Homo sapiens: one gene and its partners. The protein of the gene in region 2 interacts with the protein of the main gene of each other region in a biochemical or structural test. Each region holds a gene or a part of one and is shown on either strand. Other genes may lie near its edges.

Region 1 (7,508 bases), on a different chromosome or scaffold from region 2:
TACATGTGGGCACGTGCTCCTCAGTCTACAGGGAAATCACAACTATATCATACTGCAAGTCCAAAAGAACCAGCCCAAGATTTCTGCAAGGGTGCCACCAAAGTCAATGAGGATTAGCTATTTACATGCCCAGTGACAAGGGACACCCTTGTTTATTCTTCACGTGACTGGCCTTTGGCTAATTTCATCCAGTTACTTAACTTGAGTTCTTGAGTGAACTCTGCTGAGCCTTTCCCTCTGTTCCTGCTGCAGTGCGCAATAAACGTTTGGTCTTTGCCCCTCCAAAGCTCTTCGGGAAGGTACTGTGCCATCCTTGTGTGTATCTGAGTATTTTCCAACATCCAAAACAGTCTGTCTTGCAGCTTGGGTTATATAATGTATTTGAAAACTTACTTCTTGTTTCTGCTTCCCAAAAAGTTACCCCCAAATAAATACTGCCTAACAGTTACTGGAGTTCCAGGTCTGGGCTGCTGGCTAATGCTGACATCAGCCTGAATTGGGGTTTTGGCTGTGAAAACCATGCTTTCCTAGGTGGATCCTGTGTTTCCAGAGAAAGGTGGGTGGTAAGAAGAGGGCTAGACACAGAGACTAGGAGCTTGACCTCAGTCCTGCTCTGGCCTCAGATTCCCACGTGACCCTAGGCAACTCCAAGCGCTTGGGGCTTTGGTGTCTCCTGTCTGTCCCCACCCCACCCTCAAAGCTGCTAAAAGCTTGGAGATGCCATCCCTGAGCCCAGGGACACTGGCGATGGAGTGGGAGGTGCAGGGACTGAGCCAGGGGTCTCACCAGCTCTGCACCAGCTGCACGGAGGGTGTGCTCAGCACTCGGTCGGGAAGCAGGTTGATCTCTTTCATGATGTTGGCCAGGCGCACAGGCAGCTCCTGCCTGAGGAAGGTGAAGGAGGTTTTCTCACAGGCATTGCTGGATCCTGGCAGGAGAAAGAGGGGTGAGCCACAGAGCCACAGACTATGAAAGCCAAAGGATGTCTCGGCCAGGTCAGCTAAACCCTTCATTAACAGGGGGCTCAGAGAGCAAGTGACCTGCCCGGGGCACACAGCAAGGCTCCCCATCCCCTGCAGGGCTCAAACACCTACACCCCATGCCTAACACTTCAGGAGGTGTCATCCTCTCCTCATCCCCAGCTGAACCCTGCTTGCCTTTAACCACAGTGGACAGGGCCACTCCTGGGCCCATTTGGAGCTGCCTCTGGCCTCAGTCACCTCACTTCTCTTTCCTTCCCTCCCAGCACACTCACTTTGAGGGGCTGATTCCAGGGGACAAAGGAGCCTGGGAAACCCATCCCTACCTAGGACTGGGCTCTGGCTGAGGGGGGCTATGGCTAGACCACCACTGCAGGCTCCCAGTGTTGTCTCTGGCCAGCCCACCTCACCCAGCCTGGCCTGAATGCCCATGTGGGGCTGCTGTGTCTTAATGCCCATCCATGGGGCAAACGGGCCTGAGAACAGGAGTCCAAATGCCTCGGTCCTTGTCTGGTGTCAAGATGGAAAGGGTGGGGGACCGAATATGGCCTTGGCCCAGGGTCAGGGGCCCTGGGTTCCAGTCCATCAGGCTCTGCTTCCAACTCTGTCACCCAGGCCATGCCATCATCCTTTTGAAGGTCTCAGTTTCCCCCATAGTACTACAAGTTGACCAAACTCTACTGTGAGCCCCTCACAGCTGTGATGTTTCTGTAATTAGGGTGCAGTTTGTGGGGACAGCTGCTGGGGGCTAGGGGTGGGCCCAGGAGGCTTTCCTACATGGGGGAGGCTCAAGACTCAGGCAGGGCAGGGGTGCAGGCAGACAAGTCCTGAGGAACAGGTGCCTTATGTCTCGGCTGCCACCTCTCTGTTCCCGTCCCATCATTGACGCAGCTGCAACCCAAGCTAGGCACTATCAACTCAACTCTTGAGAGACTGCCCCCCACCCCCAGTCCCCAGCTGGCACCATGGAAATACCACATAGACAGACAGGGCCCACACAATGCCCATTTCAGCTGCCACGTTGGCACAGCCTCCCTCCTGCCCCAGGGCCACCCCCAGGTTGCTGGTAGTGGGCGATCCTGACCTAGCAGCCCTGGGGCAGCCAAGGGAGGTATAGGCGGCTTGACTCCACATCACGGTGCCTGGGGCCCCTGCCCAGCTGGGGAGAGGCTGCCAGGCCGGAACAGATTTGATCTTCAAGTGTCCTTGCCCACTGGGGCAGCTAGGGTCCAGCTCCTTCTGTGGGTGGATGTCTACCAGTCAGGGCACTGTCTCCCAATGGCATCTTCTGAAAGAGCCCCCTTCCCCAACTGCCCCTGGCTTAATCTCACCCTCTGCCCAGGGGTGTCTGACCCTTCATGCCCAGTCCAGGTCTCTCTACAGATGGCTGCACCTCTAAACCCTGCCTCCTCACTCCCACCAGCAGACCCCCGGTTTCCTCTGGTGGGAGGAGGGGCCCCTACTCCTCCAGTCATGAGGACAACTCCCATTAACCCTTTCGCGTCTGGATACCACCCTACTCCCTTCCTGCAGTAACATCACAGCTTCACTGCCCCTTACTCTTCAAGACCCTTCATGAGGCCCACGAAGAAACCTCGGGACCGTCCTTGTAAATGCCCCCCATTCCCATCAGCAGCCCCGTCGAGAGGCCCCGGCCGGTTCCTGCTTCCCCATTAACTCTTTCCTGCCTGTACCTTTCCAAACAACCCTTCTCTGTCACTCGGGGCCTTTCTTCTCCTCCGTCCCCCTAGCCCCCGGCTGCCCCTCCCAGCGCCCCGCCGGCCTCCGCTGCCAGCCGCCTCCCGCCCACTCCGTACCGAAGTCCAGAAACTGCTTCATGGACAGCGGGGACGGGGAGAACTTGCTGAAGTGCTCTATGTACTTGGGCGCCCCTGCCAGGGACGCATTCTTCAGCAGCGCCCACACCCAGCGCATGGCTGCGGCGGCCGCGACTTTGGTTGTGGTCCCCGCGCGGGCAGCGCTCGCGCACCTTTCGGCCCAGCGACGCGGTTCGGCCGCCTCCTCCCTACCCTTGCCCTGGCGGGCATTCCAACGCCCAGCCAATCGGCTCGTCATGGCGCCTCGACGTCGCCAATGGCCACTCACAAACAACTCCGGGCGAACCAATAGCCTTCCGCCCCGGCACGTGGCTTCCCCCGGGCCCGCCCCCTTAACCCACGCTTTGCCGGGGCGGCCTGTTGTTTTGGGGAGGCCGCGCCGAGTTCCCACCTCCCCTGTGTTCACTCCTCCCTTTCCTCCGCGGGGCGAAGCCCGGGTTAACCCCTTCCTTCCCAGAGCCCCGCCAGCCCTTTCGCTTCCTCTTCCACGCCTGCCTTTCCCTTGCTACCCCCTCGCATCTCCTTCACCTGCAGGCTCCTTTTAACCCTTCCTTTCCAGAGTTGTCTAGGTAGCTTTCAACCAATCCCTTTTCTCCAACTCAAAGGTACCTGTTTCACCTGTCATGATCGTTACCTATCCTCCCTTAACGGGTCTTGGGGATTCCCAGTCCGGATGACAGTGACCCAGACTGCGAATATTTGCAAAATTCGGAACCAGGGTGCAAGCCTATACGAATCCGTCCTGTATATATGCAGCCCACCCGCTTCCACAAAGATCCAAGCGGCTCAGGAAAAGGCGGAGTTTGCTTTTCCAACTGAAAAACATCCAGAGTAAAAACCATCACTACTAGTGGCGGTGGAGGCAGCAGCTATCGTCCATGCCAGTTAACACTTTCATTTTATTATACAGCTCATCTGACCGAACATAAAGCCTTGGACATCTAGCGCGACCACCTGAGAAAGCCACCTCCTTCGCACCGGGCTTCCTTAGAGCAAGATCCCAGGAGGTGAAGTGTCTCTGGGAGGCCCGGAGCCCGTCCTTCATCAGCGGCCCAGCTTCTCTTGGAGAAAATGTGACGCGCCCTCTTGTGGCCGAATGTGGTATCTCCCATCGTGGGTTTAGGGCCCGACCCGCCACTTTGATGCTTTCTTTGCTCGGTGACATTAGCCTAATACGTGTTAGGCTTTATGCTGGGAACAGGGAACACAGACAGGATCAAGAAATGGCCTTTTTCCTCGATGATTTCATTTCTAAGTTTCAGAGATAGCTACATAAGTAAATAATTAGCTATAACTGAATGTGATTGTAATACAGACCTCACAGAGCAAAGCTTCACATATGGAAGGGCCTCTTAGCTGGATGAATAATAAGCTATATGCCAGGCACTGTTTACAGGCATTATCTCATTTAATTCTCTATTTTATTATTCTTAGCCTCATTTCATAGATAAGAAAACCGAGACTCAGGGATCATTCTCAACTGCAAATCTGACCTTATTACTTCCTTGCTCACAGCCTTTCAATGGGCTATTTTTTTTTTTTTTTTTTTTTTTTTTGAGATTGAGTCTCCCTCTGTCGTCCAAGCTGGAGTGCAGTGGCACAACCTTGGCTCACTGCAAACTTCTCCTCCCAGGTTCAAGCGATTCTCCTGTCTCAGCTTTCCAAGTAGCTGGGATAACAGGCATGTACTACCATGCCTGGCTAATTTTTGTAATTTTAGTAGAGACAGGGTTTCACCATGTTGGCCAGGCTGGTCTTGAATTCCTGACCTCAAGTGATCTGCCCGCCTCAACCTCCCAAAGTGCAGGGATTACAGGTATGAGGCACTGTGCTAGGCCATCAATGGCTCTCTTCTTCTTACTGGAGCCTTTCCAGTTGTCACAAGTCGATTGACTTTTGCTTAATTCTCCAGACTCCTCTCTCTACATTCCCCCATGCAGCTCCCAGCCATACCTGTCTGCTGCCTTGAACCAGCCTCTAATCTCTAAGCCACTGCAAATGCATCTCTTCTGTCTGGATCATTCTTTCTTCCCACCTTCACCTGCCCATTCTTCAGGTCTCAGCTGCTTAGTCATCCCTTCCTCCTGGAAGCCTTCCTTGATCCTGCCAAGCTGGGTTATAGGCTCCCTTCAAGGGCTCCTTAGATCTCCTGGTCTTAGCAAATATTCGCAGTCTGGGTCACTGTCATCCAGACTGGGAATCCACAAGACCCCTTAAGAGAGGACAAGGAAAGATCAGGACATGTGAAACAGGTACCTCGTCGAGGAAAGGGATTGGCTGAAAGCTACCTGGACAAATCCAGGAAGGAGGGGTTAAAAGGAGCTGATGGTAGCTCTTATCAATTGAGTGAAAATTGTTTGCCAACTGATCTGTTTTCCCGCTAGACTTTAAGCTCCGTGAGGGCAGGGCAGGGGTTGTATCTGTCTTATTCACTGCCCTATCTCTAGCATCAGGCAGTACTCAGCACCTAGTAGGGAGGACAGGGTGAAAAAGAAGACAGGGCAAGCAGAGGAGCACACCACAGAGATATTCCAGAGAACCACCAAACATCCACTGGGCTAGCAATTAGGACGTGATTGATGATGCTGGTGAGTGCAGTTTTCAAGTGCACAGAATAATATATAGAATATTATGTACAAAAAAACCTGGCCCTCACTTTGGGAGGCTGAGGTAGGAGGATTGCTTGAGCCCAGGAGTTCGAGACCAGCCTGGGCAGCATAGCAAGATCTTGTCCCTACAAAAAATATAAAATTAGCTGAGTGTGGTGGCATGTACCTATAGTCCCAGCTACTTGGGAGGCTGAAGTAGGAAGATTCCTTGAGCCCCAGAGGTCAAGGCTGCAGTGAGCCAGAGCCATGATTGTGCCACGGCACTCCAATCTGGGTAACTGACTGAGACCCGGTCTCAAAAAAAAAAAAAAAAAAAAAAAAAAAGGCTTATTTCTGTGCCTAGCAATAAATGGTAGCTATTGCTGTTATTGTCAAAATTAAAGTAACAAGGAAAAGGCCGTGGCCTCTAAGGCTAGGTGTAGGAGAGGGAAAGAGATTTCCCATGACCCTCACCTTAGGCTGGACTTCCATAATGTGGGCTCTGTGCTTGGATAAGAACTCTTTCTGCAGAGCCTGCTGCAGGGTGCTAACAGCAGTGGTGTGATGTGGTACATCATAGTCAAGTTTGGTTAGGTGATGCCGAGGTAAACTGCACCCCCACCGATTCCCAAATCTCCCACTATATGTACAGTGTGGGTTGGTGGGGGGGGACTCTCCAAGGAGCTCAAGAAACTTGGCATTGCAGAGGGTTCTTTTACAGTGGGCATTGCTATATCTCTGCCAGTTATGTTTCTTTCATAATATGTAGCTCACGCTAGTTCTGAAAATGACCTATCCTCAAGAGTGTGTGTGTGTGTGGGGGGGGTCTTCCTCAAGCAGTGGCTCACAGGAGACTAGGGGGTCTGTGAAACTGGCCAGAGGGATGTGTCAACACCCCTGTCTTAAGCAGGAAGTGGCTGTAAGGACAAGACTGGGCCGAGCTTTGACAACCCACACATGTTATGCCCAAAGAACTGGATCCCAGATTCTAGAAAATAAAGTGTGGTCTCCATTCACTGGGTTCTGAGAGCTTGGCAGCTCCGGGTAGGGGCTAGGGTTTTCCTTGGGAAAGTGGACATTCCATTGTCAGTCACCCTGGGAAGGGGCAAATCCCGGCACAGAAAGTGAGGAGAGGGAAAGGGGCGGACATTGGGCCCAGAACCCTGTTGTGAGCTGAGCGCTGGTGGAGGGAGGTGGGGCAGGCAGCTGCCACCACAAGGAGGCTGGGAGGCACCCAGGCATCAGGTGGGTCTCCCAGAACAGCCTGGGTCTGTGAGCTCTGAGCATATCTGACCTGGCTTCTACCTCTGCGCTTCTCTGGGTAGCAATTTCCAGCCTCCAGTGAAGTCTTGCCAAAGTTCACAGCCTTAAGGAAAATTAACAGAAGGACCTAGGCCACATTCCAGGTCACAGGGGGAACAGCCTTACTCCATTCCCCAGGCCTGTGTGGAGGGGACAAACCGAGGGCAAAGGAGGAAGCTGCTTTGGGAACCCAGGACATGGCAGGAAGCAAAGCGAAGGCTTGATCCACGTGCTGTTGCCATGTAAGCCAGGCGCTCAAACACTCCCAAGGAGCTTCTGAAAGACCAGAGCTCTCAGCTCCTGGAGGCTGGACCTTGTGACAGTTCAGTCTCTGCAGCCTTGGATCAGTGGTTTACCTTCTGATCTCTTATTGGCGTCTGGTGGTGGTTGTGGGGAAACCAAGGCAGGAAAGCAGGCTCTTACCTGAATTCAGCCCGACTAAGGGCTCTCCTCTCTCCACCCTTGCACCCAGCCTCCCTCCACAGCCTGCCAGGACTGCCTGTTCCTACAGCTGAGTAGCTTTTACCTCTTCCCGACCCTGCACACTGCCACCTCTGCCTGCTCGTCCCTCCCCAGGGTCAGCACGCTGTCCTCCAAGAAGGCGTTCTGGGTTTCATCCAGGTCTCCCAAGGCTTACCCCTCATCTTCTGTTCTGGATCTCTATGACTGACCCTTAGATGAGAGGATTCCTGAGAGCAGGGGCCAGTGTCACCTCCATCAATCTTTTTATTTTTCTTTGAGACAGAGTCTTGCTCTGTCGTTCAGGCTGGAGTGCAATGGCACGATCTCGGCTCACTGCA
Region 2 (7,040 bases):
CTTTCTAATATATTAAGATTCTATTATGTGTTGTTTTTTTTTAAACCTAGGTTTTATTTTTCCTTTTGAAATGGAGTCTTGCTCAGCCGCCCAGGCTGGAGCAGTGGTGTAATCTCAGCTCACTGCAACCTCCACCCCCGGGTTCAAGCAATTCTCCTGCCTCAGCCTCCCGAGTAGCTGGGAATATAGTTACGTGCCACCATGCCCAACCATTTTTTGTATTTTTAGTAGAGACGGGGTTTCACCATCTTGTCCAGGATGGTCTCGATCTGTGGACCTCGTGATCTGCCCAAAGTGCTGGGATTACAGGCGTGAGCCACCACGCCCGGCCAGGTTTTATTTTTTAACTCTTGAATGCAGAAATGTTAGTGCTTACTGGTTAAAATAGAACATAGTATTTATATATTACTTTAGTGCTTTATTGAAAATATCGGAGGTGGGATAAACAGAGAGATAGGGTTGGAAGGAGAGTTTGTAGCAGCAGTGTAATTTCTGTGTCAGATTCTGGCCAGGAGTGAAAATGCAGGGCATTAATTAGTATCTCCCCTCATGGATTTCTGTGGTTCCTTTCTCGGTTGTCCTTAATGTTAGGTGCCCCTGGGCGCTGGGATTGCTCTAGCCTGTAAGTATAATGGAAAAGATGAGGTCTGCCTGACTTTATATGGCGATGGTGCTGCTAACCAGGTAATTATGTCTCTTAACTTCCCAAAAACAGTCTTATTTTCAAAGTCTTTAATATTTACAGTTGAATTTCTAAAGAAGTAGCATATTGCTTATTAGGTGAAATAGCAAGTCCTATGGCTAGCTCAAATTTGGTTGACTTATGGCCAGATTAGAGATTGACCTCTTAGCGTTGTTTCACAAGAGACTTACGGGGGCACATTCCTGTGAAGGAGCTCACCTTTGCTCTACATCAGTGCTTGGCAAAGGCCCTGTGGTAAAGGACCTCCCCACAACCTATTGCAAAACAATACAGACCCATTCTCTTGGATGTCCGGGCTGGCAGTGTCAAATTCGGATAATAGCGTCTGAGTCCTAACTCAGTTTCTATGCTTCTCTTGTTACCGAGTAATCCCCAGTCTGTGGCCAGCACTCTGTGAAGCCCTGTTCTAGAGGCTGATTCTTAGGTGCTGGTTCACTCTGGCTATCCAGTGGGCCTGATAGATTTCATATTGATCTTTTTTCCAGTGTGTTCCTTACTGCTAGCATGGCCCCAAAGAAACAAGTAGTAGTTGGTTTGTCACCTTCCTTAGTTGCAAGAGTATGATGCCTGCTACTTCTCCTCCACCACCCACCCCGCTTTCCCTCACCACCCAAAGCTCGGTTTTAGAAGAGGAGGCTTTCTGTGCTTTATGAAAGCTTTCTGTGCCAGGCAGAGCAGCAGCTGTTAGAGATGATGAAGCCTGGAGAAAGAAGCCAAATGAAACCCCTTTTCGTAACTACTTCCAGGGCCAGATATTCGAAGCTTACAACATGGCAGCTTTGTGGAAATTACCTTGTATTTTCATCTGTGAGAATAATCGCTATGGAATGGGAACGTCTGTTGAGAGAGCGGCAGCCAGCACTGATTACTACAAGAGAGGCGATTTCATTCCTGGGCTGAGAGTAAGGACACCTGTGGTGGGGCCGGGGCCAAGGCCAAGGCCAAGGGTATGTCCTTGTGCAGACCCTTGACGATCTTAGAAACATTGGAGAGTTTCATTCTCATACAGGAGCAGGTCATGTGAAAGTAAAATGGTTTGGGGCAGTTGGATTCATGCTTCGCCCCTCCCCTGTTTATTACCAGGTGGATGGAATGGATATCCTGTGCGTCCGAGAGGCAACAAGGTTTGCTGCTGCCTATTGTAGATCTGGGAAGGTAAGGCTCTAAAGCCCTCTGGGCTAGTGACATTTATCTCTGGAAGTTCAAAGACTGCCTCCCATGTGCCTGCTGAAGCTGTTAGTGGGTACCTGCTAATTGAGGTGCATGAGATGGAAGCAGAGTGAAGGGAGCAGGGCTCCTTTGGGTAGCTTGGTCTTGGTAGCTCACCTGCTGGGAAGCCTACGTTTCTCTCATTTGGGGGAAGTCCGTTCTGGTGCTTCCTCTGCTTTGGCCTGTCTTCATGACAACTGATTTGCCTTTTCCTTAGGTTAATTCTGTCCCTCCTCCCCACCCCCCATTAATCATGAGTCCCTTGAAGGAACAGATTGGGGATCCCCACAGTGTCCAGCATAGAATGTCATGTATACAATAGGCATTTAATATGTGTGTCTTATACAAATTAAACAGTATGGTAGAAGCTCGTAATCTTAGTCTTGCTCAGTCCTAAGGATCTTTCCCTTTTCAGTGTATGGCAGTGAGGGAGATGGTAAGAGGGAGACTGGCCTAAAGAGGTTTCACTTCCTTTGGCACTAGTATAGGCTTAGGAGGTTTGGGTGTTCTCCCTAAATCAGTGTTCTACAGCCCAGAAACAAGGTTTCTGAAGTTGGCACTTCAGCGCCATACCATGTACGTTTAGGCAGTGATGTGAATCAGATGTGGCCAGCAATGATGGAAATGTCACAAAGTGGAGAGACAGGGAAGTGAGGGTGGGAATGTAGTAACATTAAATAAGAGCTAATGAGTAGAATGAACTAGAGCAGGACCAAGACTACAGCTTGGGTACAATGGGCTGAGCAGTCTATGTCAGGACCCTAAGGCTGGGAGTGCCAGGCCCTGAGTGATGGGTATTGACGCCACCTCTCCCAATTCCTGAAAAGAATACATGGGGGCCAGCCCTGGCTGGAGACAAGGGGAGTTGTAGAATGTAGTTGTAGAATGTGTGACTTTCCCAAACAGATAACCTTCACAATTCTGAGTTAGGTGTTATTGTTTTGCCCATTTTGCAGACAAGGAAACTGAGCCATAGAGCAGTTAAAGGTACACAGCTACTCTGTCTTGGAGCCAGCTCCCCACTCGCCCATTTTAACTGCTGCACCAAACCAACCAAGGATCCTCAATGTTTCTCCACCCCAGTGTTCAGAGCCGTCTCCTGGAAGTGGGCTAGTGTAGAATGAGCGAGCCCAACTGTCCAGACTCCCAGCAGAGCCTTGGGGTTTGGGTAGCAGAGGTTGTTGGTGCCTGCCAACTTTGTTACACACTAGCAAGGTCTGTGAAGTAGGAGTGGCTGCCAGCCCCACAACACACCATGAGAAAGGAGCATGAGATGGAAATCTGTCTAGCCAATAGCAGGAGGCTCTAGAACATGCTCAGAGCCTTTTTCTTTTTTCACAGGGTCTCGCGCAGTGGCACACTCACAGCTCACTGCACCCTTGACCTTCCAGAATCAGGTGATCCTCCCAAGTAGCTGGGACTACAGGCGCACGCCACCATGCCTGGCTAATTTTTGTATTTTTTGATAGAGATGGGGTTTTGCCATGTTGTCCAGGCTAGTCTCGAACTCCTGGGCGCAAGTGCTCTGCCCACCTCAGCTTCCCAAAGTGCTGGGATTACAGGCATGAGCCACCATGCCTGGCCTTCAAAGCCTTTTTGATTCAAAACAAGCTGTTGGCAGATTGCCTTATTAAAAATGAGAAAGATGAAATATGCAATCAATACTTGCTAGAAATGAGAACAGATCAGTCAACCAATAAGAAATTCGTGACAACTCAGAAGATCTGATAAGACTACACTGGACGCTTAATAAAGGGCCTGCGTTTGAGGCCGTGGATTGCCGGCCTGTTCTTCCAGTCATCGTTCCTAACTAACTAACTGCCTACCGGTTCTGTTTTAGGGGCCCATCCTGATGGAGCTGCAGACTTACCGTTACCACGGACACAGTATGAGTGACCCTGGAGTCAGGTACGCTCATGGGCAGTGTGGTTTCCATAGGGGTGGGCTTTGAATGGTGTTACATGGCAAAAGCAACACATTTCAGTATTTGCTTTTGGAGCTAGATACCAGTTCACTTCATGTACGCAGTTGTGTTGGGCATCAAGTTATCTGAAAGCAGTGCCTCCTAATAAGAAAGCTTTCTGAAAATGCCTACAGTGTATAGTGTGTGTGAGCACAAGCAGCAATTTTTAAAGAAAGAGTGTTATATACCTTAATTGTAGAGGGAAATTGTTACATAAAACAGGGCTGATGGTAGTGTAGTATCTTGGGGGCATTTAGCTTTTGTAGGCATTACCCCAAGTCTACACCTGGCATACTCTACCTGAAGAGGATCAGAATTTGGAGATGTTCCTCTGTCTGGTATAGAGCTAAGGGTAACTGGGTGTTCAATCCGTTGAAATACATCAATCAAAAAAGCTAGGTTCCACTAGGAAGGCATGAATTTTACTTTTTTGCTTAGTAGCTCTGGCCTGTGATTCTGGAATCCCAGTTTTGACACAGTTGAATAAATAAGCCTTTGTAGAGTGGACTTCTAAGGAAAAATCATGTAGAGAGCACAGTATATGGAAAAATGCACTTTGTGTAAATCTATTGTTGAAAATGGTAGAATCCTTTTAGTGTTACTTCAGATGATATAGGCATAAGATACATTGGTTTTGCTGGCTGTGCTTCTTTAGGGGGACTTAAGGGAGAAAGGCAAGGCACATGGATTTCCTGCTTGGCGCTCTGATGTCTCAAAGTCTAATTATCACCACACACACCATCTCTGCTGTCCCCACCCATGTAGTATACAGGAGCCCAAATGGGTGGGACAAGTGACACTTCTTTAGAACCTTACATCTAAATCAAAGCAGCAAGCAAAAACTTGGCCCCTGTTGTCGGAATGCCAGGGAAGCCATGTGACTCACCAGTGTACGGTTTTCTAGAAAAGACAGAAGCAGTTATTACAGAATGTTAGGCTGCGTTCTGGTATTTTGAAAGTATAACAACAACTCTGCCACGCCTATAGTGACATAAGCATTGGTATGCCCCTTTGTTTCAGAAACACACTTCTGTATTTCACCTCATTGGGACAATCCAACCCCATATCATGTTTCATCACGCCGTCCTTGCTCTACTGGAACTGCTCTTACTGATCGATTACTACTTTTCCCTCCCCATAGTTACCGTACACGAGAAGAAATTCAGGAAGTAAGAAGTAAGAGTGACCCTATTATGCTTCTCAAGGACAGGATGGTGAACAGCAATCTTGCCAGTGTGGAAGAACTAAAGGTACAGTCACTTGTTCATGGTGGTTTGAAGGTTGGCTTTAAAAGTTGCCACCCCTGGGTGGCCACAGAGTTTGTGTGGGTTCCTCCAAGCCCAGAAAGTGATGTCCTGGGACATAAATAGTTCCATAGTTCCAAAGTCCCTTGGGGTGGGGGCTTTTCCTTTAGTTTCCTCTATTCAAAATTGTATTACTCTTCAGATTTCAGATTTTGGTGGACTGTGAACCACCATCACAGTGGCAAAGCCCCCACAGTAGTATGGTTCTTTTTTCCTAAAAGTATACTGTGGATTTTTAATTCATAAAATAGATACACCCTAGAAATCTGTATTCCAAAATCTTCTGAATTAGCAACTGTTCGTACTTGTAGTTAAAGAGTTACACCAGCAACAGGTCCTCAGCAGAACTCTAGTTGGTACCTAAGCTGCTGTTCATTCTAAAACCTTTTACACTGTTACCTAATTTTTAGGAAATTGATGTGGAAGTGAGGAAGGAGATTGAGGATGCTGCCCAGTTTGCCACGGCCGATCCTGAGCCACCTTTGGAAGAGCTGGGCTACCACATCTACTCCAGCGACCCACCTTTTGAAGTTCGTGGTGCCAATCAGTGGATCAAGTTTAAGTCAGTCAGTTAAGGGGAGGAGAAGGAGAGGTTATACCTTCAGGGGGCTACCAGACAGTGTTCTCAACTTGGTTAAGGAGGAAGAAAACCCAGTCAATGAAATTCAATGAAATTCTTGGAAACTTCCATTAAGTGTGTAGATTGAGCAGGTAGTAATTGCATGCAGTTTGTACATTAGTGCATTAAAAGATGAATTATTGAGTGCTTAAAGATTATTTTTGACTTAAAATAGTATACTTTGAACAAATACTCTAATTATGAAAAGGAAGAACAATTCCTTGTATGCCTGTTTCCCCTGCCCCCAGCCACCTTTTTGGGAGGAGACCATTATGGCGGGGCCCCTCACAGCATTCTACCAACCATAGCACCCACCCCGAGCAGCGCTGGTGCTGCAGCCTGTTCGCGCTGACCATTTCTCTACAAGATACAATATTTATTATCAGGCAAGAGGACAGTTCCATTTTAAAATAAGACTTTTGTAATCATTCCAATTTTGTAATCATTTCAAAGGCCACATAACTTAGTTTTCTCTACTTACACATTCAGTATAAATATGAAGCTATTTTCTGTTCATATCAAACATTAACTACAAGGCACATTCGTATCAGTTTTGTGTTTCTCAAATTGAAGTACCATACCAGTTCTGAGGCAGTGTCCCAGCTTCCATGTTTGTTAAATACCCCTTGTTTGTTTCACCATTCCAGCAAGTGCTGAAGGGTGTACTTTTTTTGAGACAGGGTCGGGCTCTGTTGCCCAGGCTGGAGTGCAGTGGTGTGATCATGGCTCACTGCAGCCTCCACACCTCCTGGGCTCAAGCAATCCTCCCACCTCAGCCTCCTGCATAGCTGGGACTACAAGTGAATTTCCTAATATTCCGGGAGGTCAAAACCAAGGCTCACTGTTTTCACAATACACACAGTTCTATGTTTATAAATAACAGGTTTCAAAAGAAACTCAGGACAGTATTTAAAACAAGTTCTTAAACTATTAATTGAACAATGGCATTTTTAAATATGTAAACACAGCGGAATTCGTGTATACACTAACAGAAGCTTTAACAAAACATGTAGCGTGGTGGGACACTCTGCCACAGCTTAGCTGATTGGTATCAAGCCTTGTCTTTGGTTTCTGAGGCCTCCTGAGCCCTTCTGTACTGGGAGACCGCACTCCAGAGTCTGCAGAGGAGACCACCCCTGGGAAACAAACACAGCTGTCTTCAGAGTCAGTGCTTCAAGCCAACAGAGCTTAAAACTGCAGTCCCTAATTTAAAAACCTAATGAAAATAAAAACATTCTCCTC
Region 3 (7,040 bases), 5.1 Mb from region 2:
GGTTCCTGAGCCTCAGCACTCTTGCCATTTCAGGCCAGGTAATTTTGGTAGGAGCTGTCTTGTGCACTGTGGGAAGTTGAGCTACATCCCTGGCCTCTACCCACTAGATGCCATGAGCACCTCCCACTCCAAGTCGTGACAACCAAACATGTCTCCAGTCATTGCCAAATGTCCCCTGGGGGAGCAAAATGTCCCCTGGACTTCTGTTGAATCACTGTTTGGAAGTGTTTACTTGAGTGGTTTTCAGGCCAGGGCCTCATACTCTGAATTTTTGTTGTAAATGGTCTGGGGGTGCTGGGGGTGGAGAGCAGAGCACTGGTATTTTTAGGAGATCCCCCTGTCATTCTAAAGCATATCCAGGGTTAAGCACCATTAATCAGATGATCTTCTGTCTGATCTGCTGGCCCCCTTTCATCTATGTGCAGTATTTTTCTCTATGCTTTTTAAAATAATGAAAGTTTCTTGAACTCCATCTTGACTTGAAATATAGCCTGCCACACAGTTAGCAAATATAGCAAGAATAACAAGTGTTCTAAATGGATTTTTAATTTATTATGGCAATAGTACATTCCAAAGGGTGGCATTTTTTAAAATGAGATTTTTCTTTTGGGCCTAAGATTACAGTCACATGGTTCCAAATTCAGAGGGTTCAAAAGGACACAGAAAAGCCTGCTTCCCACTTGTGCCCACTGGCCTCCCCTTTTTTCGCATAAATGGCAGTTTATAGCTTTGTCTGTTCCTTGTTTTTTGAGCTTAATACCTTAGAGACAGATTTTTGTATATCTGTACCTGCAGAACTTTGTTTTTCTTTTTTATGGCTTCTGAGAATTTGGTTATATGAATGTACCAGAATTTATTAGCAACTTTCCCTATTGATGGCTACAATTAATAGGTTGTTTCTAGACTTTGCTGTGGCAACCTGCCCTCCAGTGAATTATTATATGCATTGTCATTTCATGCATGTCCGCGTGTATCTGTAGGACAGATTCCTAAACGTGAGATTGCTACATCAGCAGGTATGTGCATTTGTAATTTTGGCGAACATTGTCAAATTGCTTTCCATAAAGGTTGTTTGTTTTCCCCCTCGCTAGAAGTTTCTGAGAGTACCTGTTTTCCTATGCCTTCACCACATTGTTGTCAAACTTTTGATAGGTAAAAAAAAAATGATATATCTAGATAGAATTTTTTTCTCCTTGAGTAAAGATGTCTTTATTTTAGTTTTTTATTGTGGAAATTAAAAAAAAAAACTTAGGTGGGTGCCTGTAATTCCAGTGCTTTGAGAGGCCAAGACAGAGGATGGCTTGAGACCAGGAGTTTGAGGCCAGCCCTGGGCAACATAGTGAGATCCTGTCTCTAAAAAAAATAATAATAATAAATAAATAAGATTAGCCAGGAGTGGTGGTATCGCACACCTGGGGTCTTAGCTACTCAGGAGGCTGAGACAGGAGGATGGCTTGAGCCCAGATTGAAGCTGCAGTGAGCTGTGTTTCTGCCACTGCACTCCAGCCTGGGGGATGTACATGTATAGGTAAATACATATATAAATTTTATTGTGTATAATTAAGGTATACAACATGATGTTATGGGATACATATAGTTAAAAGGTTACTACAGTGAAATTAACATATCTATCATCTCACATAGTTACCCTTTTTTATTTTTGTGGCAAGGTCAGCTAAAATCTACTCATTTAGCATGAATCCCATATACAGTACAATTTTATTATCTATTATATATTCTTCATGTTGTGCATTAGATCTCTAGACCTTAAACATTTACAGAAGTAGAGAGAATAGAATGATGAACTCCTGGGTTTGTTTTATTGATATCCATTTGCTATTTGTCTGTAGATGTTGTATGTGTGGTCTGTTAGATTTTCTGATCAAAGTCATGCTTGTTTCAAAAAGATAAATTTTTGTTTTCAAAAAGATAAATTTTTTTCTTTTCCTATGCTAAGACTAATTTATCTTTTGAATTATCTGGTTCTTAAAGATTTGGTAGAACTTCATATGAAAGTGTTTAAGCCTGTATGTTTTGGGGAGTTTTGCTCTCTGATAGCTTTCTCTATTCTGTGTTATTGATCTCTGTAGATTTTCTGTCTCTTCTAGAGTCCATTTTGATATATTTTTCTTGAAAATTATCCTACTTGGCTAGGCGCGGTGGCTCATGCCTGTAATCCCAGCACTTTGGGAGGCCAAGGCAGGTGGATCACATGGGGTTGGGAGTTTGAGACCAGCCTGGCCAACATGGTGAAACCTCGTCTCTACTAAAAATACAAACATTAGCTGGGCATAGTGGTGGGTGCCTGTAATCCCAGCTACTGGGGAGGCTGAGGTAGGAGAATTGCTTGAACCCAGGAGGCGGAGGTTGCAGTGAGCCAAGATCATGCCCTTGTACTCCAGCCTGGGTGACAAGAGTGAAACGGCATCTCAAAAAAAAAAAAAAAAAAAAAAAGAAGAAAAGAAAAAAAGAAAATTATCCTACTCATTGAGGTTTTTAAGTCAGTTTGGATAGCTGAGATAGTTGTCACTGAACAGTCTTAATTTTCCCTGTGACATTTGTCCCCCCCCTTCTTCTTGAGTAGGTTAGTTGATGATTTATTGGGTTGGATTTATTAGTTTTATGACTTTTGTTATCTAGTTTATTGTCTGATTTGACTTTAATAATTCCTTCTGGTCTCAGGTTTATTTTGTTCTTTTAAAAATTAGGTGCTTTCTGTTCTCACTCATAAGTGGGAGTTGAACAATGAGAACACATGGACACGGCAAGGGGAACATCACACACCAGGGCCTGTCGGGAGGTGGGGGGGCTAGGGGAGAGATAGCATTAGGAGAAATACCTAATGTAGATGACAAGTTGATGGGTGCAGCAAACCACCATGGCACGTGTATACCTATGTAACAAACCTGCACGTTCTGCACATGTACCCCAGAACTTAAAGTATAATAAAAAAAATTAAATGCTTTCTTCTTTGTCTTGTTTATTTCAATGTTTAAGGTTAGTTATTCCTCTGAGCACTGCTTTAGCAGCTGATGTGTGTATTTGGTCTTTTTTCTCTTAGCTCTTCTGTGTCTTCAGGTTTTTATTTTCCTATGAATGAAGAGTTGTTTGGAGGAGTTAAAAATTTCCAGTGAAGGTGCATTCTGCATTTTAATTTTATTTATGTCTAGTTTTGTTGCACTGTGATTACAGAATGTTGTCTGAATTATTCTCTAATTTATTGATGTTAACTTTGAAGCTCATTATATGGTTGTTTTCTGTGAATGTTCCTTGGGCAGCGAAAAGAAGGTTATACTCTCTTCTCAGGTTGCAGAGTGTGATATGTCAGCTCTGCAATATTATGTTATTTAGGTTTTGTGTAACTTTACTTTTTTTATCCACCTGATTTGTCATGGATCAAACACAAGAGAAGTTAAAGTCTCCTAATAATGATTCTCTTTCTCCGTATAGCTCCTATTGTTTTTGCTTTATGACTATCAGTGTTATGTTTGATGCTTATTAACTCACATCCTCATTGTGAGATATACCCATTAGCATTAGAGTGCTGCCCTTTTACTAGTTGAAGGCTTTTTGGCCTGGATTCGTCCTTATTTGACATTGAGATCTAGTTCCCTATTTTCTTGTTTACATTTCCTGGGATAGCATTGCCATCCTTTTATTTTCAGTTTTTCTGAATTACTTCGCTCTAAATATGTCTCTAAATGTAGTGTAAAGTTGGGTTTTGCTTTGTGAATCAGTCTTTTTCATGTGGTAAGTTTAACCTATTTATACTTACTGGTATGATAGATCTGTCATCTGTAATGATAAGCATTTGTAATTTTCTGTTGCTTTCTGTTTTTAATACCTCAGTTTTCCTATGTTATATATTTGCTTTGTTTTGCCATATTTATTTTAATAAATAACTAGGCTTGAATTTTTGGTTCTAGTGGTTATCTTTATAGTTATTACTTTATTTCTATAGACCTTTGTCCCATATGGGTCACCACTTGTCAGCCAGGAGACCTTTGAGCACTTGAAATGTGGCTAGTGTGGCCGAAAAACTGAATTGACTTAATTTAAATTTAAAATGGATACTTGATGCAGTTAATTTTTACATCTGTGTAGAATAACTTGGATATGGAATCCACTTTATCACCTGTAAATTTTAGGAAATCTCTTTATAGGTCAATTATTTCTGATAGAAATTTAGCCTCTGAATTGAGATGTGCTTTCAGTATAAAATACACACTGGATTTCAAAGACTTAATATAAAAATAGTAAAATATCAGTACATCTTATATTGATTGCATGTTGAAATGGTAATATTTTAGATATGTTGGGTTAAATGGAATATTATCAAAAACTTTATTTCTTTTTTATGTTAATGTGGCTACTAGGAAATTTTAAATTATATATATGGCTTACATATTTCTTTCTTTCTTTTTTTTTTTTTTTTTTTTTTTTTTGTGAGACGGAGTTTTTGCTCATGTTGCCCAGGCTGGAGTGCAATGGTGCGATCTGGGCTCACCGCAACCTCCGCCTCCCAGGTTCAAGTGATTCTCCTGCCTCAGCCTCCCAAGTAGCTGGGATTACAGGCATGCGCCTACATGCCCAGCTAATTTTGTATTTTTAGTAGAGATGGGGTTTCTCCATGTTGGTCAGGCTGGTCTTGAACTCTCGACCTCAGGTGATCTGCCCACCTCAGCCTCCCAAAGTGCTAGGATTACAGGCATGAGCCACAGCCCCTGGCCTGGCTCACATATTTATATTGGACAGTGTGGCTTCAGATAATATATGTTAATTCCTTATTGGGAGCAATGAAAACATCACATTTTAATGTTCAGAATAAACATTTATTGGCTGGGTGCAGTGGCTCACGCCTGTAATCCCAGCACTTTGGGAGGCCGAGGTGGGTGGATCACGAGGTCAAGAGATTGAGACCATCCTGGCCAACGTGGTGAAACCCCGTCTCTACTAAAAATACAAAAATTAGCCAGGCATGGTGGTGGGCGCCTATAGTCCCAGGTACTCGGGAGGCTGAGGCAGGAGAATTACTTGAACCTGGGAGGTGGAGGTTGCAGTGGGCCAAGATTGCGCCACTGCACTCCAGCCTGGCTAGAGTGAGACTCCGTCTCAAAAAACAAAACAAACAAACAAACAAAAACAAAAAAACCAACCACACATTTGTTGAATTTATTTATTTATTTATTTACTTATTTGAGACAGAGTCTCACTCTGTCACCTAGGCCAGAGTGCAACGGCTTGGTCTTGGCTCACTGCAACCTCTGCCTCCCGGGTTCAGGTGATTCTCCTGCCTCAGCCTCCCGAGTAGCTGGGATTACAGGTGTCTGCCACCACGCCTGGCTTATTTTTGTATTTTTAGTAGAGACGGGGTTTTGCCCTATTGCCCAGGCTGGTCTCGAACTCCTGACCTTAGGTGATCTACCCGCCTCTGCCTCCCAAAGTGCTGGGATTACAGGCATGAGTCACCGTGCCTGGCCTGAATTTATTTCCTGAAATATAACTTTCACATGTCTTGTTCCATATTTTTTTCTATAAACCTCTCTGGATTTTTGGATCAATGTATTGTTTTTGACTGGCAGTTAATGTTATGGTGGCTCCTTGTTATATTTGCACAAATTTGAGTTCTCTTTCCCTTAAGCAGTTGTGATAAATTAAAAATTCTCTTAATTATATAAGAAAAGGAGAACTTGGACTATTATGGCATAAAGATAGAACCTTCTGAATGTTGAATGAGTTGGTAGGAAATGATTCACATTTTCTTTTGGACTTGCTTTTCATCTTTCAGTCTCGCCCTGTCGGCTTCTGGTTCCCATATTAACCACTTTTCTCCCCTCCCTGCAGACTGACGTCCCATTTGTTTGATTTTCCAGTTACTTTTGCACAGCCACACTTGCATTAAAGAGATTTTGCTCCTGCCTCCTTTTCTTAGATTTTATCCTCAATTGTCTCTTTCCAAAGGGCAGGCGCTCACCTCTTTTTTGTAACCTCTTACAGCTTCCTCAGCTCAGCTTGCTCTGCACAGAGCAGGTGCTCCATAAATGGCAATTACTGATGGCATGCCTGACTCCATATCGAGGTTATTAAACATTATGCCACTTTCATTTAGTCAGTTATATAAGTTTATTTTATTTATTTATTTATTTATTTATTTATTTATTTATTTATTTATTTTGAGACGGAGTCTCACTCTGTCGCCCAGGCTAGAGTGCAGTGGCACCATCTCGGCTCACTGCAACCTCCGCCTCCCAGGTTCAAGCAGTTCTCGTGCCTCAGCCTCCCGAGTACCTGGGACTACAGGCATGCGCCACCACGCCCGGCTAATTTTTGTATTTTTAGCAGAGACGGGGTTTCACCGTCTTGGCCAGGCTGGTCTCGAACTCCTGACTTCAGGTGATCCACCCGCCTCTGCCTCCCAAAGTGTTGGGATTACAGACGTGAGCCACTGTGCCCAGCCAAGTTTAAACTTCCATAGTGTCCCCATGTGTAAATATAGCATCTCTCAAAACCACCAGAAAGCAGATTGCTGATAGCCCTGCCGTCTTTTCACAAAACTAAATATTTTGATTTCTGTCATAATCACACCGGCTCTGTGAACCTCAGAGCCTTTAGCTCTTAGAAGGTAGCGGCCAGTTTCCGCATTCTTACTATTCTTAAAGTTTAAGGGCCCAGCCATCTTCTTTTCCTTTAGAACATATTTTAAGATACTTTGGAGATACTTTGGTTCCAAATGACTCCCTTTCGCAAAGTCTTGGCTTTTTAAGTCATTTTGCTCCTTGAAGCCTGATCACCACTGGGGACAACAGTGATTGCGTTCTTGGAGAAAATGGAAAGGTTTTTAAAAAAATTATGTTAGGAAAAGGGAAAAACAATCTCATTCTGCTTCCGAGTGTGTTTATTTTGTACCTTTACATATGTAAATGACAGATTTTTTTTTTTTTTCCCTGTAAGCAGTAGTTTTTCTGCTACAAGGTGTCACCAAGAATTAGACCAACCTGTTTGGAGAAAGGGATCAACTATTCAGAATTAAAGGGGAAGAG
Region 4 (4,853 bases), on a different chromosome or scaffold from region 2:
ACAGAACGTGCTCACAAAGAGGAGGCAGGAAGGTTGGATCCCTGATGAGCCTTGGAACGGAGGTGGGGAAAAGCAAGGATGTGTGGAAACAGCAAGAAGTGGGAGAGAGAGAGAGAGGCGGAGGGGAGAAAACCGTCACGGAGGCCAAGCGGCAGGAGCTCAGCTGAAGAAATGAGATTGGTGGTGGGTTTTCCCTATATCGCAGGCTCTGACTGCCAATCTGCTGCTCCTCCAAGGCCTCGGTGGCTGTGGCATGAAACATCCTGAGGAGCTTGTAAAGTGGACACTGTGCCCCTCACGTTTGGCCCATTTTTCAGGTGGAGCCTTTTGCCAGCTTGACCGAGGCCGTGCGGAGCTCAGTTCCCCGACTGCTCATCAACCGGGACTTGGTGGGGCCCTTGGCTTGGCATCCTCGCAGCAGGGACGTGGCCCAGCTGGGGGACGTGGTTCACGGCGTGGAAAGCCTAGTGGAGCTTCTGGGCTGGACAGAAGAGATGCGGGACCTTGTGCAGCGGGAAACTGGGAAGGTACAGACTGCTGAGGAGGACCATCCAAGGGGCTGCCCTTCTCACTGCTCTAGGGTATGGTCCACCTGATATGGAGCCCCGTTGGTTAACACAGTAACAGTAATAGCTGATGATGCTGTGAATCCTGCACCAGGCACTACCTGGACCTGACTGGGTGTTACTTTCAATACCTCCATTTAGAGATGAGGAAACAGATGCTAACAGGCCAAGCAGGGACACGGTCCAGACACTCAGGGCTGATGAGTCTGTATTCTTAACAGACTATAGGCGTTACCTTCACTCCCTAAAATAAAGCAGCCAACAGTGTCCCTCTAAGGCCTGGTATGTGATTCTAAGATGATACGGGTTAAAGAACTTTGAGAAGCTAAAGTTCTCTGCATCTATGTGGGATGAAGGCTACATGAGTGATGCTTTTCGGAAGTAATTGGTATGAGAGCCATTGATCAATTATAATCCGCTGAGGAAAGCCAAAGAGCCTTGATGCTTTCTAAGAGATTTCAAACCGCCTATAAACAAGTGAAGTTACAGAAAATGCAGTTTCCCATAAGAATCATGTAGCATGTGTAGCCTTGATATTAAGGGTTTTCAATGGGAGGTGGTAGCATTAAGCATTTAAAGTCCAGTGTCATGATTACAGGCAGGTGTAACACTGTCCAAAGGGGATTTCACCAGTGTATTAGTCTGTTCTCTGGCTGCTCATAAAGGCATACCTGAGACTGGGTAATTTATAAAGGAAAGAGGTTTAATGGACTCACAGTTCCATATGGCTGTGGGGGCCTCACAATCATAGTGGAAGGCAAAGCAGGAGCAAAGTACTGTCTTACAAGGTGGCAGGCAAGAGGACGTGTGCGGGGGAACTGCCCTTTATAAAACTATCAGATCTTGTGAGACTTATTCACTATCAGAAGAAGAGTGTGGGAAAGACCCGCCCCCATGATTCAGTTACTTCCACTTGGCCCCACCCTTGACACATGGGGATGATTACAATTCAAGGTGAGATTTGGGTGGGGACACAGCCAAACCATATCAACTACAATATATCACAGTTGATGCTCCTCTTGCCTTCCAAGGCAGATGTCTTAGGAAATCCTGATCCTTTTTCCTTGTCCACAGCTGTGGCTGCCTCATGGCTCAGGGCCATGGGGTCAGCACTCTCCTCACCTCCACCAGTCCAAGACCTCCAACCTCTGGTTGCAGGCTGATTTTTTACCAATCATGGTCACTTCATTATGGAGGCAGGGAACCCAGCTAACAATGAGGCTTAAACGCTGAGAGGCGAGTGCCTCCTGGCCAGCTCACAAGGCAGCGGAGATCTTAGATCAGCCCAGCAGGCTTTTTTGAGGGATCCTTTTCCTGCTCCAACTTCATATTTTCTTTTTTTTGTAATGGAGTTTCACTCTTGTTGCCCAAGCTGGAGTGCAATGGCACGATTTTGGCTCACTGCAGCCCTGCCTCCTGGGTTCAAGTGATTCTCCTGCCTCAGCCTCCTGAGCAGCTGGGATTACAGGCATGTGCCACCATGCCTGGCTAATTTCTGTACTTTTATTAGAGATGGGATTTCATCATGTTAGTCAGGCTGGTCTCAAACTCCTGACCTCGGGTGATCCACCTGCCTCAGCCTCCCAAAGTGCTGGGATTATAGGCATGAGCCAGCAGGCCCGGCCCAACTTCCTGTTTTCATAGAAAAGCAGATTGTAACTCTGGTAGCTCCTGTGGAGTTTTGGAAGTGGCTTAATAGGATTTGAACTGTATAATCTAGTTTCAGAGAAATGTATGTAAAATGGGTTATGATTTCATTTTCTGTTTTTTACAGCATTACTATCCAAGGGGTTACTTTTCCAAATAGTGAATGCTTTTAAGCACATGAGCATCAGTACATATTGATTTGGGTACTTTAAGACCCATAGAATGAGGCTCTCCATTTAGCCACCCTGTTCTGCCCAGGCCTGCTGGGATCCTCTTAGCCCAGCACAGCAGCAGCAGTATTTGCAGAAAGCAGCTTGTTTTGTGAAATATTTTGCATGTCTGCAGCTAGAGCTGTTTGAACAGAGATCTGCTGGCCTGCCTGGGTGTGTAAACAGATAGCTGATACCCTCTGTCTTCTGTATTCCAGCTTGATGGACCAGACAAATAGGATGATGGCTGCCCCCACACAATAAATGGTAACATAGGAGACATCCACATCCCAATTCTGACAAGACCTCATGCCTGAAGACAGCTTGGGCAGGTGAAACCAGAATATGTGAACTGAGTGGACACCCGAGGCTGCCACTGGAATGTCTTCTCAGGCCATGAGCTGCAGTGACTGGTAGGGCTGTGTTTACAGTCAGGGCCACCCCGTCACATATACAAAGGAGCTGCCTGCCTGTTTGCTGTGTTGAACTCTTCACTCTGCTGAAGCTCCTAATGGAAAAAGCTTTCTTCTGACTGTGACCCTCTTGAACTGAATCAGACCAACTGGAATCCCAGACCGAGTCTGCTTTCTGTGCCTAGTTGAACGGCAAGCTCGGCATCTGTTGGTTACAAGATCCAGACTTGGGCCGAGCGGTCCCCAGCCCTCTTCATGTTCCGAAGTGTAGTCTTGAGGCCCTGGTGCCGCACTTCTAGCATGTTGGTCTCCTTTAGTGGGGCTATTTTTAATGAGAGAAAATCTGTTCTTTCCAGCATGAAATACATTTAGTCTCCTCAAAGGGACTGCAGGTGTTGACATGAGTTGGAAAGGGAACCCTGGGATACGTGGCGTCCCCTCTATTGGAACAGTCTGAGGACTGAAGGCATTTGTCCCTGGATTTATTGGAGACGGCCCAGCTCCTCCCTCTGAAGGTGGTCACATTCTGTTGACTCTCCATACTCAGCCTCTCCTCCAGAAACAGATCTGTTCCAGAACATTCCAGCACTTTCTATCTGGCCTCCTTGTCCCCACACTACGCCCCCCCACCCTCGCCAGGGCTTCCTCTAGTGACACTGTTAGAGCTAATCTCTGAGACAGGGAAGGCATTACTCACTTAAAACCCAGGCTGAGTCCTGGCCACCTGCTGGATTGTGACATAGGAGGTGGAATCCACTGAACTGCTACTTCTGCACAGGCTCCTTCTCCTGGGGCTGTACCCAGGCCCAGCCCTGATGGCTCACCCTGTCAGGCACCAGCTGCTCCCTCCTGGGCTCTCACCCACCTGCACATCCTCCTTCCTAGCATCACATTACCTGCGTGTTTCCCCAGACAAAAGCACTTCCCATTCTTGAACCTTGCCTACCCTGGGCTGAGCTGACGGCAATAGATTTAATGACAGTGACTCCCAGGAAGGGGGTCCTGTGACTTTGCGCCTTAATAAGAACAAAAGGTGGAATTGGTGACCTAGGAAAACTGTTGAATTCTAAAAAGAATGAAGTTAGTTTCTAACCCTAGTTAATGTTCCTTTTTTATTTTTTGAGTCTTGCCCTGTCACTCAGGGTGGAGTGCGGTGTTATGATCTCAGCTCACTGCAACTTCCGCCTCCCGGGTTTAAGCGATTCTCCTGGGTAGCTGGGATTACAGGTGTGTCCCACCACACCTAGCACATGGGCATATTTGTAATAGAGACAAGGTTTTGCTATGTTGGCCAGGCTGGTCTCGAACTCCTGGCTTCAAGTGATCCACCCACCTCGGCCTCCCAAAGTGCTGGGATTACAGGCATGAGCCACTGTGCCTGGCCCCTTTATTTGATAATTTACACATACATTTTTGTCCAAAACTCTTCTTTATTTCAAGATGATGTTTCTGTGGCTATGTGTGGTATGTGGTATAAATCTCAATCTATGGTCACACGAGGGGCATTTTCCTTGTTGTAAGTGTAGTCTAAACCAGTAGGAAGGAGGTTTAATTGCCAAAACCAGCGAGAACTCGGGCACTGTGGATACTACAGTGGGCAGCTGAACGAGGACCAAGGAGAATGTCTAAGAGGCCTCCAGCCCTGCGCTCAGTGAAGACAGGACAGGAACAACAGAGCATACATACCTTGGAAGGGTGTGTTCTGATATACTCGTATGGAAAGTTCTGACAGGTTTTCTCCCTGGGAAGTGCAGCACATACCCCAACACACTGGCTCTGCCAGTGTGCCAATCCCAGATGGTGCTTGCTTTGTGTGCACCCACACCCAAACCCCTGCCCTCCCATATGCTCTTCTGTGTGCCCAGGTAGGCCCTGCCCTCAGGCAGCAGCTTCTGAACACATTCCTCTTGGCGCAGACAAAAGAAAGTACTTCGTCTGTGGAATTCGAGGCTGAGCCTGAGTTCTAGCACAAGAAGACCGTTGCAGTCCAGAGATGAGAAACTGGACCAGAGGCAAAT

The links.
Region 1: of the proteins of PDHA1 (region 2) and PDK2, one has a biochemical effect on the other in vitro, tested with the Homo sapiens proteins (one study listed by IntAct).
Region 3: of the proteins of PDHA1 (region 2) and PDK3, one has a biochemical effect on the other in vitro, tested with the Homo sapiens proteins (one study listed by IntAct).
Region 4: of the proteins of PDHA1 (region 2) and SIRT3, one has a biochemical effect on the other in vitro, tested with the Homo sapiens proteins (one study listed by BioGRID).

What each region holds. Positions count from the first base shown.
Region 1 is NC_000017.11:50,090,843-50,098,350, reverse strand, and holds the start of PDK2 (pyruvate dehydrogenase kinase, isozyme 2 isoform 1 precursor), read right to left. Parts: upstream 3,001-7,508; 5' UTR 2,916-3,000; coding exon 2,798-2,915; intron 2,657-2,797; exon of another isoform or gene 2,541-2,656; intron 2,220-2,540; exon of another isoform or gene 2,065-2,219; intron 929-2,064; coding exon 787-928; intron 454-786; exon of another isoform or gene 1-453. UniProt on the Homo sapiens protein: Kinase that plays a key role in the regulation of glucose and fatty acid metabolism and homeostasis via phosphorylation of the pyruvate dehydrogenase subunits PDHA1 and PDHA2.
Region 2 is NC_000023.11:19,353,900-19,360,939, forward strand, and holds part of PDHA1 (pyruvate dehydrogenase E1 component subunit alpha, somatic form, mitochondrial isoform 1 precursor), read left to right. Parts: intron 1-591; coding exon 592-684; intron 685-1,449; coding exon 1,450-1,605; intron 1,606-1,786; coding exon 1,787-1,858; intron 1,859-3,752; coding exon 3,753-3,820; intron 3,821-5,016; coding exon 5,017-5,125; intron 5,126-5,589; coding exon 5,590-5,754; 3' UTR 5,755-6,849; coding exon of another isoform or gene 6,850-6,934; 3' UTR 6,935-7,040. Other genes in the region: MAP3K15 (mitogen-activated protein kinase kinase kinase 15), read right to left, coding at 6,850-6,934. UniProt on the Homo sapiens protein: The pyruvate dehydrogenase complex catalyzes the overall conversion of pyruvate to acetyl-CoA and CO(2), and thereby links the glycolytic pathway to the tricarboxylic cycle.
Region 3 is NC_000023.11:24,468,257-24,475,296, forward strand, and holds part of PDK3 (pyruvate dehydrogenase kinase, isozyme 3 isoform 2 precursor), read left to right. Parts: intron 1-7,040. UniProt on the Homo sapiens protein: Inhibits pyruvate dehydrogenase activity by phosphorylation of the E1 subunit PDHA1, and thereby regulates glucose metabolism and aerobic respiration. Can also phosphorylate PDHA2.
Region 4 is NC_000011.10:214,506-219,358, reverse strand, and holds the end of SIRT3 (NAD-dependent protein deacetylase sirtuin-3, mitochondrial), read left to right. Parts: exon of another isoform or gene 1-317; coding exon 318-527; coding exon of another isoform or gene 528-581; intron 582-2,640; coding exon 2,641-2,661; 3' UTR 2,662-4,329; downstream 4,330-4,853.